4 separate regions of the Homo sapiens genome follow, and all the other regions are reported to be linked to region 2. Evidence: microRNA targets listed by miRTarBase, many of them from high-throughput screens and not tested one by one. Region 2 holds a microRNA gene; each other region holds the end of a gene's coding sequence.

Region 1 (3,111 bases), not on the chromosome of region 2:
CTTTGCAGGGGCCTTTTTAGGCTTGGGCTCTGGCTTTGGAGGAGCAGGTTTAGCAGACAACCTCGCAGATCTTCTCTGTGATTCATCCTTCACCTTGGCTTTATCTCCTTTAGCATCCCCTTCAGTCTTTCTCTTGGGCATGGCGGCGGCGGCGGCGGCGGGATGTGGGCACCGGGTGTGGGACGCAGCAGCGCGCGGGCTTTGGTCGGTCCAGGGGTCGTTCTTGCCTCTTCTCCTTCACACTGCTCCCACGCTTTTTTAATTGACAAAATTCAAAATATAGCCCAATTTTTTGTAATGCCTTTTTTGGTGAGAATAACATTGCCTCTAATCAGGGTTCTAAGTAAGTGTTCCCTGTGATCAAAATCAGTTGTAAATGATTGCCTATTAATGGTTATCATTAACCATCATTAACCATTAATACTAATGGTAATAAGATTTTACACATTTCATCTTTAAAAATGTCTTCTCATACAGATAGGTATTGCCAAATACTGCTATCAATCCAGGAGCATATGAAATTAACTGAGCATATTCATCACTTGGAAAGCATTTGTAAAATTCTTTTACATTTCTTCCCTTGAAATTTGCCTTTTAGCATGTCATTATTTTAATCACTTCTTACTGAAAATTAGGTTGAATCACCTCAATTGCAGTTAAATAGATTTTGAAACAGGGAAATTTCCTTTGCACTTGCACCTAGGTCCCTAAAAATGCTGAACTCAGAAAATATACTCACTAAAATTTGTGGGAATGGAAATCTTGTTTCTTTCTCTTTGATAGTATGACAAATGTGTAAGGATATTGTCATCAAATATTGTGATTCAAATATCGATTGTCAAAATGACTGTACCATATCAAAGTTGTTTTGCCTTGTGTTTTAGGCCATTCTTGCATTGCTATAAAGAAATACTTGATACTGGGTAATTTATAAGAAAAGAGGTATAATTGGCTCACAGTTCTCCAGGCTATAGGAAGCATAGCACTGGCATCTGCTTCTGGGGAAGCCTCAGGAAGCTTTTACTCATGGTAGAAGGCAAAATAGGAGAAGGCACTTCACATGGCGAAGGCAGGAGCAAGAGAGTGTGGGGGGCGAGTGCCACATACTTTGAAACAACAAGATCTCATAACTCATTATCTTAAGGACACCACCAAGGGGATAGTGCTAAACCATTCACGAGGGCCACATATAAGGGCTCACACCTGTAACCTTCACACATTGGGAAGCCGAGATGGGAAGATCTCAAGCCTAGGAGTTCAAGGTTACATTGAGGTGTAACTGTGTCTCTACACTCCAGCCTGGGCAACAGAGCAAGACCCTGTCTCTAAGTAAAAATAAAAATAGAGTCAAAGAACCATCCAGAATCATTTCCTTTTTAAAGTGACTATTTATGTCGCTTTCAATGTCCTTAACTCTTTAAGCAACTGTTCTTGCCAAAGGCCAGTAATCTTAAGTTTATTTTCTCTGGATATATTCAGCTGCTGCATCCAAACATAATTAATTCACACCATCAATAAATGGCTTTGCTTGGCTAACAAATGATTGACTTAGAGACTTACTGTTGTTGCAGCCTCATTTTCATTTTGTGAAGAAATTCTGCTTTGTTATTTCCATTTTAAATTTTCTAATTTTTCTAACAGTTGCTTGCCTGTGAGTTGGGAATACTGTGATGAGTGGTTTGTCTGGTAATGTCAATGGTTATTCTTTTAGCTTAGCTATATAGATGCTTTGTCGTCTAATTCAACATCAAAATAATTCACACCCTACTGTACTTTAAAAATAACAACAAAGTCCACTTTTCTTGTTTTGCTATAATAGATATGCTCTGGTAATAAAAAATAAAATGTGGGTTCATGTGATATACATGGCACTCAAAATGCTGTCGTTACAACCACATCAGTGATTTGTGATGTGTCAAACAGCAGTGTGAAGTGATGACAGTCACATTCAGTGTGTGTTGCAACCACTCAACTCTGCTATTGTTCAAGAAAGCAGCTGCAGTCCTCACTTCAGCAGCACATATACTAAAAAACTGGAATGGTACAGAGAAGATCAGAATGGTCCCTGCGCAAGGATGACATGCAAATTCGTGAAGCGTTCCATATTAAAAACAAAAAACAGCTGCAGATGATATGTAAACAAATGAGCATGGTATGTTCCAATCAAACTTTATGAACTCTGAAACTCTTAATTTCATACAATTCTAATTTTTAAAACTGATACATAATAGATGTCATAAAATTTTCACGTCACAAAATGTTCTTTTGATTATTTTTCAACCAATGGAAAACGTAAGAACATTATTAGGCCACAGGCCATATGAAAACAGGTGGTGGGACAGATTTGGCCTGCAGGATGTAGTTTGCCTGCCCCGTTCTAAATAATTTCATTTTTTATTACTTTTATGGTGATAGTTAATTGGCAGTAAAGGAGTAGTTACGTAAAGGACAACTACAAAGTGGTGTTAATACCTTCCTAGTTAGTACTCAATCACCCTACTTTCAAAAATTATTTTCCCTGAGAGAAAATATTTATTCATATTTATCCAATAAAAATTAGATATATTTTGTTATAAAATAATTGTATGTTATAATTTAGATAACAGGGAATGTATTTGGTAGCCTTAGTTCAGTTAAAGTTTAATTGGTAATCCTCAATTTGTAAAATAAGGCAAAGTACAAGGGTTCAATAGTAAAAACCAAACCCTAAAATTTTATTAAATAATACAAATTCTATTTCACTACATGTAAGTCTGGTAGGGAGATGGAGAAAACATTTCCAATTAAGTGTTTGAAACAATTTGTGTTTTTTCGTCTGAAAAGGCTTCAGCCGTCCTCTGCCTTTTAAGAGGTGGATCTTCATGATTCTCTGTAATAAATCCAGAAAACCTATTTTAGGTAAGATATTAACAGTTGAAAATACTCTTAAAAAAACAAACAATATAGGCATTTTTAATCTAGTCAACTTAAACATGAAATAACATTCTTGCAGATTTACTATTTTAATGAAATAGCCTTCTATTAGACTGAACTAACACAGTAGCTTTCTATTAGACTGAACTAATACTGCATTAAAATTTGTAAAACTGGGAGGAATTAGTTACAATTGAA
Region 2 (3,111 bases):
ACCGCCTCGCCTTTGCCCCATCCCATCTTCGTCCCCCTCCCCTCCCCCCAATTCCCATCCTCATCCCCCTCCCCCAATTCCCATCCTCATCCCGCTCCCCCAATTCCCATCCTTATCCCCCTCCCCCAATTCCCATCCTTATCCCCCTCCCCCAATTCCCATTCTCCTCCCCCTCCCCCTTCCCTATTACCATCCCTTTTCTCCATCTCTCTCCCCTTTTCTCCATTTCCCCCCCGATCCTCCCCGTCCTTTTGTCCATTCCCCTCATCTTTCTTATCCCCCTTATCCTCCTTCCCCTCCCTTATCCCCCTTCCCCTCCCTTATCCGCCTTATCCCCTTCCCCTCCCTTCCCCCTGCTCCTCTTCTTCTCCCCTTTCTCTTTTCTCTACCCTTTTCCTTCCTTTTTCCTCCCTCTCCCCATCATCCCCCTCATCTTCGTCCTCATCCCCATCCCCTTCCCCCTCCCCCTCCACCACTCTCTCTCCAGCTTCCCCCTTCCTTCTGCCTGCACCTCGCTCTCTGCCCCCTCAGGTTCCCCCTTTCTCCCAGTCCCCACCCTCCGGCTCCCCCTTTTTGCCTGCCCCCACCCTCCCTCTGCCTCCCTGTCTCTGCACTGACCTCACGCCTGTCTGCAGGAGACCTCATCCACCTGGCCAGCTCAGACGTGCGGGCACCACAGCGCTCAGAGCTGGGAGCCGAGTCACCATCGCGGATGGTGGCGTCCCAGGCCTACAACCTGACCTCTGCCCTCACGCCCATCCTCACGCGCTCCCGCGTGCTCAACGAGGAGCCCCTGACGCTGGCGGGTGAGGAGATCGTGGCCCAGGGCAAGCGCTCGGACCCGCGGAGCCTGCTGTGCTATGGCGGCGCCCCAGGGCCTGGCTGCCACTTCTCCATCCCCTAGGCTTTCAGCAGGGCCCCGGCCAACCTCAGTGACGTGGTGCAGCTCATCTTTCTGGTGGACTCCAATCCCTTTCCCTTTGGCTATATCAGCAACTACACCGTCTCCACCAAGGTGGCCTCGATGGCGTTCCAGACACAGGCCGGCGCCCAGATCCCCATCGAGCGGCTGGCCTCAGAGCGCGCCTCACCGTGAAGGTGCCCAACAACTCGGACTGGGCTGCCCGGGGCCACCGCAGCTCCGCCAACTCCGTTGTGGTCCAGCCCCAGGCCTCCGTCGGTGCTGTGGTCACCCTGGACAGCAGCAACCCTGCGGCCGTGCTGCATCTGCAGCTCAACTATACGCTGCTGGACGGTGCATGCAGCGGTTGGGGCACACGCGGCCCCCTGGCCTTGTTCTTGGGGGGAAGGCGTTTCTCGTAGGGCTTCCATGGGTGTCTCTGGTGAAATTTGCTTTCTGTTTCATGGGCTGCTGGGGGCCTGGCCGGAGAGGAGCTGGGGGCCACGGAGAAGCAGGTGCCAGCTCTGGTGCAGAGGCTCCTATGGCCTTTCAGGCCCATGGCAGAGGGTGGGCTCAGGAGGGCCATCGTGGGTGTCCCCCGGGTGGTTGAGCTTCCCGGCAGGCGTGTGACCTGCGCGTTCTGCCCCAGGCCGCTACCTGTCTGAGGAACCCGAGCCCTACCTGGCAGTCTACCTGCACTCGGAGCCCCGGCCCAATGAGCGCAACTGCTCGGCTAGCAGGAGGATCCGCCCAGAGTCCCTCCAGGGTGCCGACCACCGGCCCTACACCTTCTTCATTTCCCCGGGGTGAGCTCTGCGGGCCGGCCTGGCAGGGCAGGGCAGGGCATCATGGGTCAGCATTGCCCGGGTTACGGGCCCCGTGGGGACGGCAGGCAGCGAGGGGACTGGACCGGGTATGGGCTCTGGGACTTCGACATCCAACCTGGCGGAGCCTGGGCTCACGTCCACTGCCCCTTCCCTTCCCAGGACCAGAGACCCAGTGGGGAGTTACCGTCTGAACCTCTCCAGTCACTTCCGCTGGTCGGCGCTGGAGGTGTCCGTGGGCTTGTACACGTCCCTGTGCCAGTACTTCAGCGAGGAGGACGTGGTGTGGCGGACAGAGGGGCTGCTGCCCCTGGAGGAGACCTCGCCCCGCCAGGCCGTCTGCCTCACCCGCCACCTCACCGCCTTCGGCACCAGCCTCTTCGTGCCCCCAAGCCATATCCGCTTTGTGTTTCCTGTGAGTGACCCTGTGCTCCTGGGAGCCTCTGCAGAGTCGAGGAGGGCCTGGGTGGGCTCGGCTCTATCCTGAGAAGGCACAGCTTGCACGTGACCTCCTGGGCCTGGCGGCTGTGTCTTCACAGGAGCCAACAGCGGATGTAAACTACATCGTCATGCTGACATGTGCTGTGTGCCTGGTGACCTACATGGTCATGGCCGCCATCCTGCACAAGCTGGACCAGTTGGATGCCAGCCGGGGCCGCGCCATCCCCTTCTGTGGGCAGCGGGGCCGCTTCAAGTACGAGATCCTCGTCAAGACAGGCTGGGGCCGGGGCTCAGGTGAGGGGCGCGGCGGGGTGGCAGGGCCTCCCCTGCTCTCACTGGCTGTGCTGGTTGCACCCTCTGGGAATGAGTCTCGTCGCAGGCGTCAGAACAAGGCAGTTTTTGCAGTACTGTGTGAAGGGCTCGTGTGTTCATCCTGGGAATGACCTCGTGAGCACTCACTGTCCCTGAGGACTAGGACAGCTCCTAGCTGGAAGTAGGTGCCAGTCAGTCAGGGTGGGCAGCCCACGTTCTGCACAGTAGCGTGGCCCCACAAGTGACATGAGCATCGCTACCACTGTGGGAGACCATGCATCCACCCGCGATCCTGACTGCATAGCTCGTCTCTCAGGCGGAGGTGCCAGCACCCTCCCCGTGGCTGTTTCTTCAATACCTCCATTTTCCTTTATTGGAATTGCCCTTCTGGCATTCCCTTTTTGTTTTCGTTTTTCTTTTTTTGGAGACGGAGTCTCGCTCTGTTGCCCAGGCTGGAGTGCAATGGCGTGATCTTGGCTCACAGCAACTTCCAGCTCCTGGGTTTAAGCGATTCCCCTTAAGCGATTCTCCTGAGTAGCTGGGAGTACAGGTGCACACCACCACACCCAGTTAATTTTTCACCATGTCAGCCAGGCGAACTCCTGACCTCAGGTGATCCGCCTGCCTCGGCCT
Region 3 (3,111 bases), not on the chromosome of region 2:
CTTGCTCAACATCAGAGATCACATACAGGGGAAAAGCCCTATGAATGTAACACATGCAGGAAAACTTTCTCTCAAAAGTCAAATCTCATTGTACATCAGAGAAGACATATAGGAGAAAACCTTATGAATGAAATGGATATTAGAAATTTCCAGCCACAAGTCAGCCTCCATAATGCCTCAGAGTATTCACACTGTGGAGAAAGCCCTGATGACATCCTGAATGTTCAGTAACTATCCACAAACTCACCTTATGTTACTCCAAAGTAATAGTAGGGGATAAACCCATAGACTACAACAATTATAGGACAGCTTTTGTTAGGAAGTGATATTCTATGTAATATCAGATGGTTAATACGGGCATAACACCTTACAGATTTTTTTTGAATTTGTGAAAGTTTTTGGCAAAAATGCAAATAAGGTTATGTTAGAATTTACACTGAGGAGAAAATTGTCAATTTAAGAAATCTAAAGTGAAAATTTTGCTTAGAAATAAAATACGACAAGTTATGTTTTGAGTTTGATGCCATAATAGTTTTTAGGGCACCTAACAATAATTTATAGATGTATATTGTGGAATGTAAAGCTTTAAGAACTTAAACAAAGGTAATAATTAAAATAACCTCACAAGAAGTTTAATGAGTAGAGAGAATTCCCATGTACACTTCACCAAACTTCCTCTAAGGATAATGTATAATCATAGTATATGGTCAAGTCCAAGAAATCGATGTTACCTTGCTGGTAGATAGAGACTTAGTCAGATTTTACTATGGTTTGCATGCACTCTGTGTGTGTGTGTACGTGTATGTGTGTGTGTGTGGTTATATCAAACTTTTACGACTTTTACATTTGAGTAACCATCAACACGATTAGTTTACAGAACTGAAAAGGAATCTGAGATCTGTACTGTATCAGGATTACAAAGGATTTAGCCTCAAGTAGTTCCCTTTTTGTATTAATAACCACACGCTTTCTGCAACCCTATCCCTTGCATCCACTTGACTATGAAGTTTTTTTAAAGCACAGATAAATTGAATAATCAGGGCAATAGCATTAAGCACATCTGCGAATTATCCCTGAAGTTCAAAAGACTTATATATGTATAAGTGGTATGTGATATAAATCGTGTGTTTCATATGCATAATGGAATTTAACGTAATTGTGAATAGGAAGTAGGTATCCTAGTTTAGTAGTGGTTACATTATCAGGCCCATCCCAGATGTTTGTGATGTCCTGAAACAATTTAAAAGGAGACCCACAGAGCTAATGTTTATCCATTTAAAAGGTATAAATCAAAATAACAAATTATCTAAAAAAAATCTATCCTGTACATGTGAAGATCTAGGCTCGCCTCCATGTTACTCCCTTTCTCTTCCTACCTGTGGCTCATGCCATGCCATGAAGTGCCTAGGGTACATATGTGAACATTCCAGCCTTCAGCATAAGTGGTAGTCCAAATTTTCTTTAAGCAGCTGCTCTCCAAGACAGGGCCCTGGAAAGGCCCACACATACAGCCCAGGGCTGCCCAGGGCTGTTGGACTGTCATTTCAAGGCTCATTGTCCCCAGACAGGGATCTGGGCCCTCAGACTTTTGAGAATATGAAGAGGAGGGTTGAGGCTGGAGCAGAACCAGAATCAAGCTGGTGTGGGGCTTTTATTGATAGTGTGAAGATTGTACACTATATTACATGATCAGATCATACAAATAATCTAAGATTATACAGTCTAGTGATCCTAGATTACACAAGTAATCTAAGCTTCCACTTTAGGAAACTAGAAAAAGAAGAGCAAATTAAATCCAAAGTAACCTGAAAAAACATTAGAGTAAAAATCATTGAAATTGAAAAGAGAAAATCGATAAAACCCAAAACTGGTTCCTTGAAAAGGTCAGTAAAATTGATAAACCTCTAGCTAGCTTAAGAACAAACAGAAGACAAATATTGCTAATACCAAAAATGAAAGAGGCCATCACAGCTAATCCTATGGTCACCAAAAGGATTAGAAAGAAACATGGACAACTCTGTCCATAAATTTGATAACTTAGCTAAAATGGACCAATTCCTTGCAAGACGCATTCTCTCAAAGCTCACACAAGATAGACCTCAATAGGCATATGTATCTATTAAATAAACCAAAGCAGTAATTAATAACCTTCCAAGGCCAGGTACAGTGGTTCATGCCTGTAATCCCAGCACTTCACTTTGGGAGGCTGAGGCGGGTGGATCACAAGGTCAGGAGTTCGAGACCAGCCTGGTCAACATGGTGAAACCCCCTATCTACTAAAAATACAAAAAATTAGCTGGGCATGGTGGCATGCGTGTGTAGTCGAAGCTACTCAGGAGGCTGAGGCAGAAGAATCACTTGAACCTGGGAGGTGGATGTTGCAGTGAGCTGAGATTGTGCCACTGTACTGCAGCCTGGGTGACAGAATGAGACTGCATCTCAAAAAATAATAATGAAACTTTCCAAAACAAAGTGCCAGGACCAGCTGGGTTCACTGATGTGTTTTTGAGATACTTAAGGTAGAAATGATACCAAGTCTCTACCATCTCTTTCAGAAAATAAAAGCAGAGATAACACTTCCCAACTCATTTTGTGAGGCCAGTATTACCCTAATAGCAAAACCAGGCAAAGATATTACAAGAAAGGAAAACTACAGATCAATATTTCCATTGAACACAGATGCAGAAATCCTCAAAATATTAGCAAATCAGGAATGCAAGGCTTGTTCAACATTTGATATTCAGTGTAATCCATTGCATGCATTAGCAGCTCAAAGATGAAATACGATCATATCAATAGGTACAGAAAAAGCATTTGACAAAATCCAATATCCATTCATGTTAAAACCTCTCAACACAGAAGGAATACAGGAGAACTTACTCAAGTTGGTAAAGAACATACTACAAAAAACCCTACAGCTAACATTATCCTTGATGTTTCCAACTAGACACTTTCCTACTAAGATCAGGAACATGGCAAGGAACACCACACCACTGCTTTTCAGCATTGTACTGGAAGTGCTATATAATGCAGTGTTAAAAAAAAAAGAAATAAAATGCACATAGATTTGAAAGGATGAAATACAACTTTGTTCACAAGTAACATGATTGT
Region 4 (3,111 bases), not on the chromosome of region 2:
ATCTTCCCCAGCCATGTGGACTGCAGCTTCCCTGACCCTCGCTGCTGTTTTTGATGCTAGCTGTCCTGGTGGGGGTGACAGGTATCTCACCGTGCATTTGACTCACATCCCTAACATCTCTTCATGTGCTCATTGGTTGTCTGTATATATATTTTTTTGAGACGGAGTCTCGCTCTGTCGCCCAGGCTGGAGTGCAGTGGCGTGATCTCAGCTCACTGCAACCTCCGCCTCCTGGGTTCAAGCAATTCTCCTGCCTCAGCCTCCCGAGTAGCTGGGACTACAGGCGCCCGCCACCACGCCCAGCTTTTTGTATTTTTAGTAGAGATGGGGTTTCACTGTGTTAGCCAGGATGGTCTCGATCTCCTGACCTCAGGTGATCCACCCGCCTCGGCCTCCCAAAGTGCTGGGATTACAAGCGTGAGCCACTGCACCCGGCCCTTTTTTTTCACCTTACAAAAGCAAAACATTTGTGTATCGTCTTGGCCACCCAGAGACATGGACGATCCTGGGACCTGAATTCCATGTACAGCCCAAGTCCCTTCTCCCATTCTCCCAGCGTGGTGGACACCAGGCCCAGGCAGTACAGTACACAGTAAAACTGGCCTCATTCAGGTCGGGCATGGTGGCTCATGCCTGTAATCCTAGCACTTTGGGAGGCTGAGGCAGGAGGATCACTTGAGGCCCAGAGTTCAAGACCAGCTTGGGCAACACAGCAAGACTCCCTGTCTCTATTAAAAATAAGTAAATAAATAAAAATCTGCCTCATTTGACCACGAGCAGCACCTTTTGAATTCTGAAGCTGAGGCAATAACCAAGAAAGAGAGATGTGGGTGAGGCTGAGTTTCTGTCCTTCCCCCAACTCCGCCCCCCGACTACAGGGTACACACTTAAGAGACACAGGGCACAGAAAAGCGGACGCCTGGATGGCTTCACCTCGACCTTTTTTATTTGCATTTTTTAAAAACAATTAAATTAGAATACAAATATTAGAAAACAGCGGCCTTCAGCTGCCCGTGCGGGCGGGAGGGGCCGAGCTGCGCAGCGGGCTGCGGGCTCTGCAGTGAGACTGAACTGCCCTCGGCCAGATGCACGTCCCTTTCTTTAGACCTGAAATGATATTGCTTCCTGACTAGGAGTTCTGTTTATACAAAGGAAAATTCTGGGCTGGGGAGGACAAAAGCAAAACAGACCGCAGGCAGCGGTGTTGGAGAACCAGGTGAGGCCGGTGCCCCGCCTGCGCCCCGGTCTCCTGCGGGGCAAGGGGGGTGCCCAGCTGTGGGCTCCTGAAGGCAGAGCCCTGGTAGCTCCCCCAGTTGTTGGACCCTGAGGCCAAGGGCATGGGTGGGGCCTGCGAGGGGCCGGGAACGCCTGGGGACAGGAAGGAGGCCCCTGGTCTGGTCCTGCTGGAAGAGTGAGGCTCCCGGGGGACAGGGTGCCGGGCCAGCCTCGTACCCGTCGGAAAACCAAGAGCAAAAAGGAGAGGAATCAACCCAAACCGAGAGCCGGGGTGGCCGGGGTCCCTGCTGCCCCTTGGGAAGCGACCGCAACCCATGCCCCAAGGACCGGGGTATGGTGGCGGCGGCGGCGGCGGCAGCTGTGGACATCTGTGGACATCTGTGCTGTTCCGTAGGGAAGTTAACCTGAATTGGAATTACCGAGGTAGCTGGCTAGAAAACTGAGACCCCCCCACGCCACACGGTGCCGCACCCTGGGCCCCCGCCTTCCCCGGGGGTTCCTGACCACACGCCGGGTCTTCAAAATACCAAATTATTGCACTTTCAAAAAATACAACACATCTGTGGCTAAACCCTCCCCAGCCGCCCACTGTACCCCCATCCTGCCCACCCATCCCCCCACCCTACTGCCCCTCCCCGCCCCAACCCACTCCATGGCTTCTCGGCTAAAACGCTCGCTGCTCGGCGCGTGAGGGTCTCTGGGCGAGGATGCATTTGCAGAGAAAAAGCAAAGGAAGAGACAAACGTCAAAGTGGTCGCCAGAGAGGGGCTGCGCCCCACCGCCCGCCGCCCGGGTCCCCGCGCACTGGCTGGAATGGTCGTGGGCAGAGGGCGGCGGGCGGCGGGGCATCCGGAGGGGAGGGCGCGGGGCGGCGTCCTGGTCCCTCCCGCCCACTACCCCTTCCCGGCTCGGACTCCAGCCGGGGAGGCGGCTGTGTGGGTGGCCGGCCTTGTTTTTAAGAGTTTGACTTTTTTGTTTCATTTTTCTTTTTTGTATCTTTTTTTGTCATTTTACTTTTTTTTTTAATCCCCCGATAGGAGAGTCCAGAGGTACAGGTGCCAGGAGCCAGGCAAAAGGGTGGAAAAACAAAACGAACGACAATAAAAAGAAAAAGAAAGGTCACTCCTCCCTCTGCGCCCGAGGCTGGCCCGTGCCCCTCTGCGTGGTGAGCACCAGGAAAGTCGAGTGTGCGGCCGGGGTCAGCAGGCCGGCACCAGGCCCTTCTGGAAGGGGCAGCGGCGCTTGGGCCGGGGCCCCTCTTCGTCCTCGTCTTCCTCCTCCTCTTCCTCCTCCTCCTCATCCTCCGAGGACGATGAGCTGTCCAGCGTGAGGTCCACCACATCGGCGCCCGGCTTCCCATTCTCCATGCTGCCCACCGGGCCGCCGCCACCCGTGCTGCCCAGGGCACCGCTCCCGTTGACGCTGGGGGCGGGCAGGAGCCCATTGGCGTCCGAGGGGCCTACGGGCAACAGGGACAGGGTGCAGGTACTTAGGATGCAACCACTGATAAATGGGGAAACTGAGGCGGCCCTGGCTGCGGACTGCGCGGCTGGTGGGGTGAGGCACTCACCCAGCACGAGGATGGCGCCCTGCGGGCTGCAGCTGCGCTCCTTTTCGGCGCGGATCGGGCACCACGAGCCGTCCACCAGGTACTCGATCTCGTCGGCGTCCTCACACTCGCTCAGGATCTTCGAGAGGAGCCTGGGGCGAGGCGGACAGCTGACGCCGGGGCTGGAGGTGCCCCACCCCCCCAACTCCCCAGCCCTCCATCCCTCCCGGATGCAGCCAGGCACTCCCCACTTCTCTCTGCAAGAGCAGCCTCACCACCCCGACCGCAGGGGTCCAGGGACCCCGCATTCCCTCCCCCGCCCTCAG

What was found. The annotated mature microRNA hsa-miR-6770-3p reads CUGGCGGCUGUGUCUUCACAG and lies in region 2 at 2,244-2,264, shown strand. An mRNA with a match to its seed (bases 2 to 7 or 8) in the 3' UTR can be bound and repressed. Matches are read on the target gene's strand: a 7mer-m8 pairs with bases 2 to 8, a 7mer-A1 pairs with bases 2 to 7 and ends in A, and an 8mer does both.
Region 1: miRTarBase lists TRMT5 as a target of hsa-miR-6770-3p. Seed matches in the 3' UTR shown: 7mer-m8 at 141-147.
Region 3: the mRNA of ZNF33A is a reported target of hsa-miR-6770-3p. The part of its 3' UTR that is shown has no 7-base or 8-base seed match.
Region 4: the mRNA of PIAS4 is a reported target of hsa-miR-6770-3p. Seed matches in the 3' UTR shown: 7mer-m8 at 1,574-1,580.

The regions. Positions count from the first base shown.
Region 1 is chr14:60,972,326-60,975,436 of GRCh38, forward strand. TRMT5 (tRNA methyltransferase 5) reads right to left here. Exons shown (of 5, transcript NM_020810.3): 5 at 1-2,869. The coding sequence ends at 2,784. It also overlaps the pseudogene RNU6-398P. Among named protein-coding and RNA genes, the nearest start is that of TRMT5, 7.2 kb to the right of the region's middle.
Region 2 is chr16:14,928,616-14,931,726 of GRCh38, forward strand. It overlaps MIR6770-1 (microRNA 6770-1), which reads left to right and starts at 2,205; the gene lies at 2,205-2,264. It also overlaps the pseudogene PKD1P3-NPIPA1 and the pseudogene PKD1P3. RefSeq lists an enhancer at 1,293-2,106.
Region 3 is chr10:38,056,330-38,059,440 of GRCh38, forward strand. ZNF33A (zinc finger protein 33A) reads left to right here. Exons shown (of 5, transcript NM_006954.2): 5 at 1-3,111. The coding sequence ends at 231. Among named protein-coding and RNA genes, the nearest start is that of ZNF37A, 36 kb to the right of the region's middle.
Region 4 is chr19:4,037,200-4,040,310 of GRCh38, reverse strand. PIAS4 (protein inhibitor of activated STAT 4) reads right to left here. Exons shown (of 11, transcript NM_015897.4): 10 at 2,807-2,937; 11 at 925-2,695. The coding sequence ends at 2,436. Among named protein-coding and RNA genes, the nearest start is that of ZBTB7A, 28 kb to the left of the region's middle.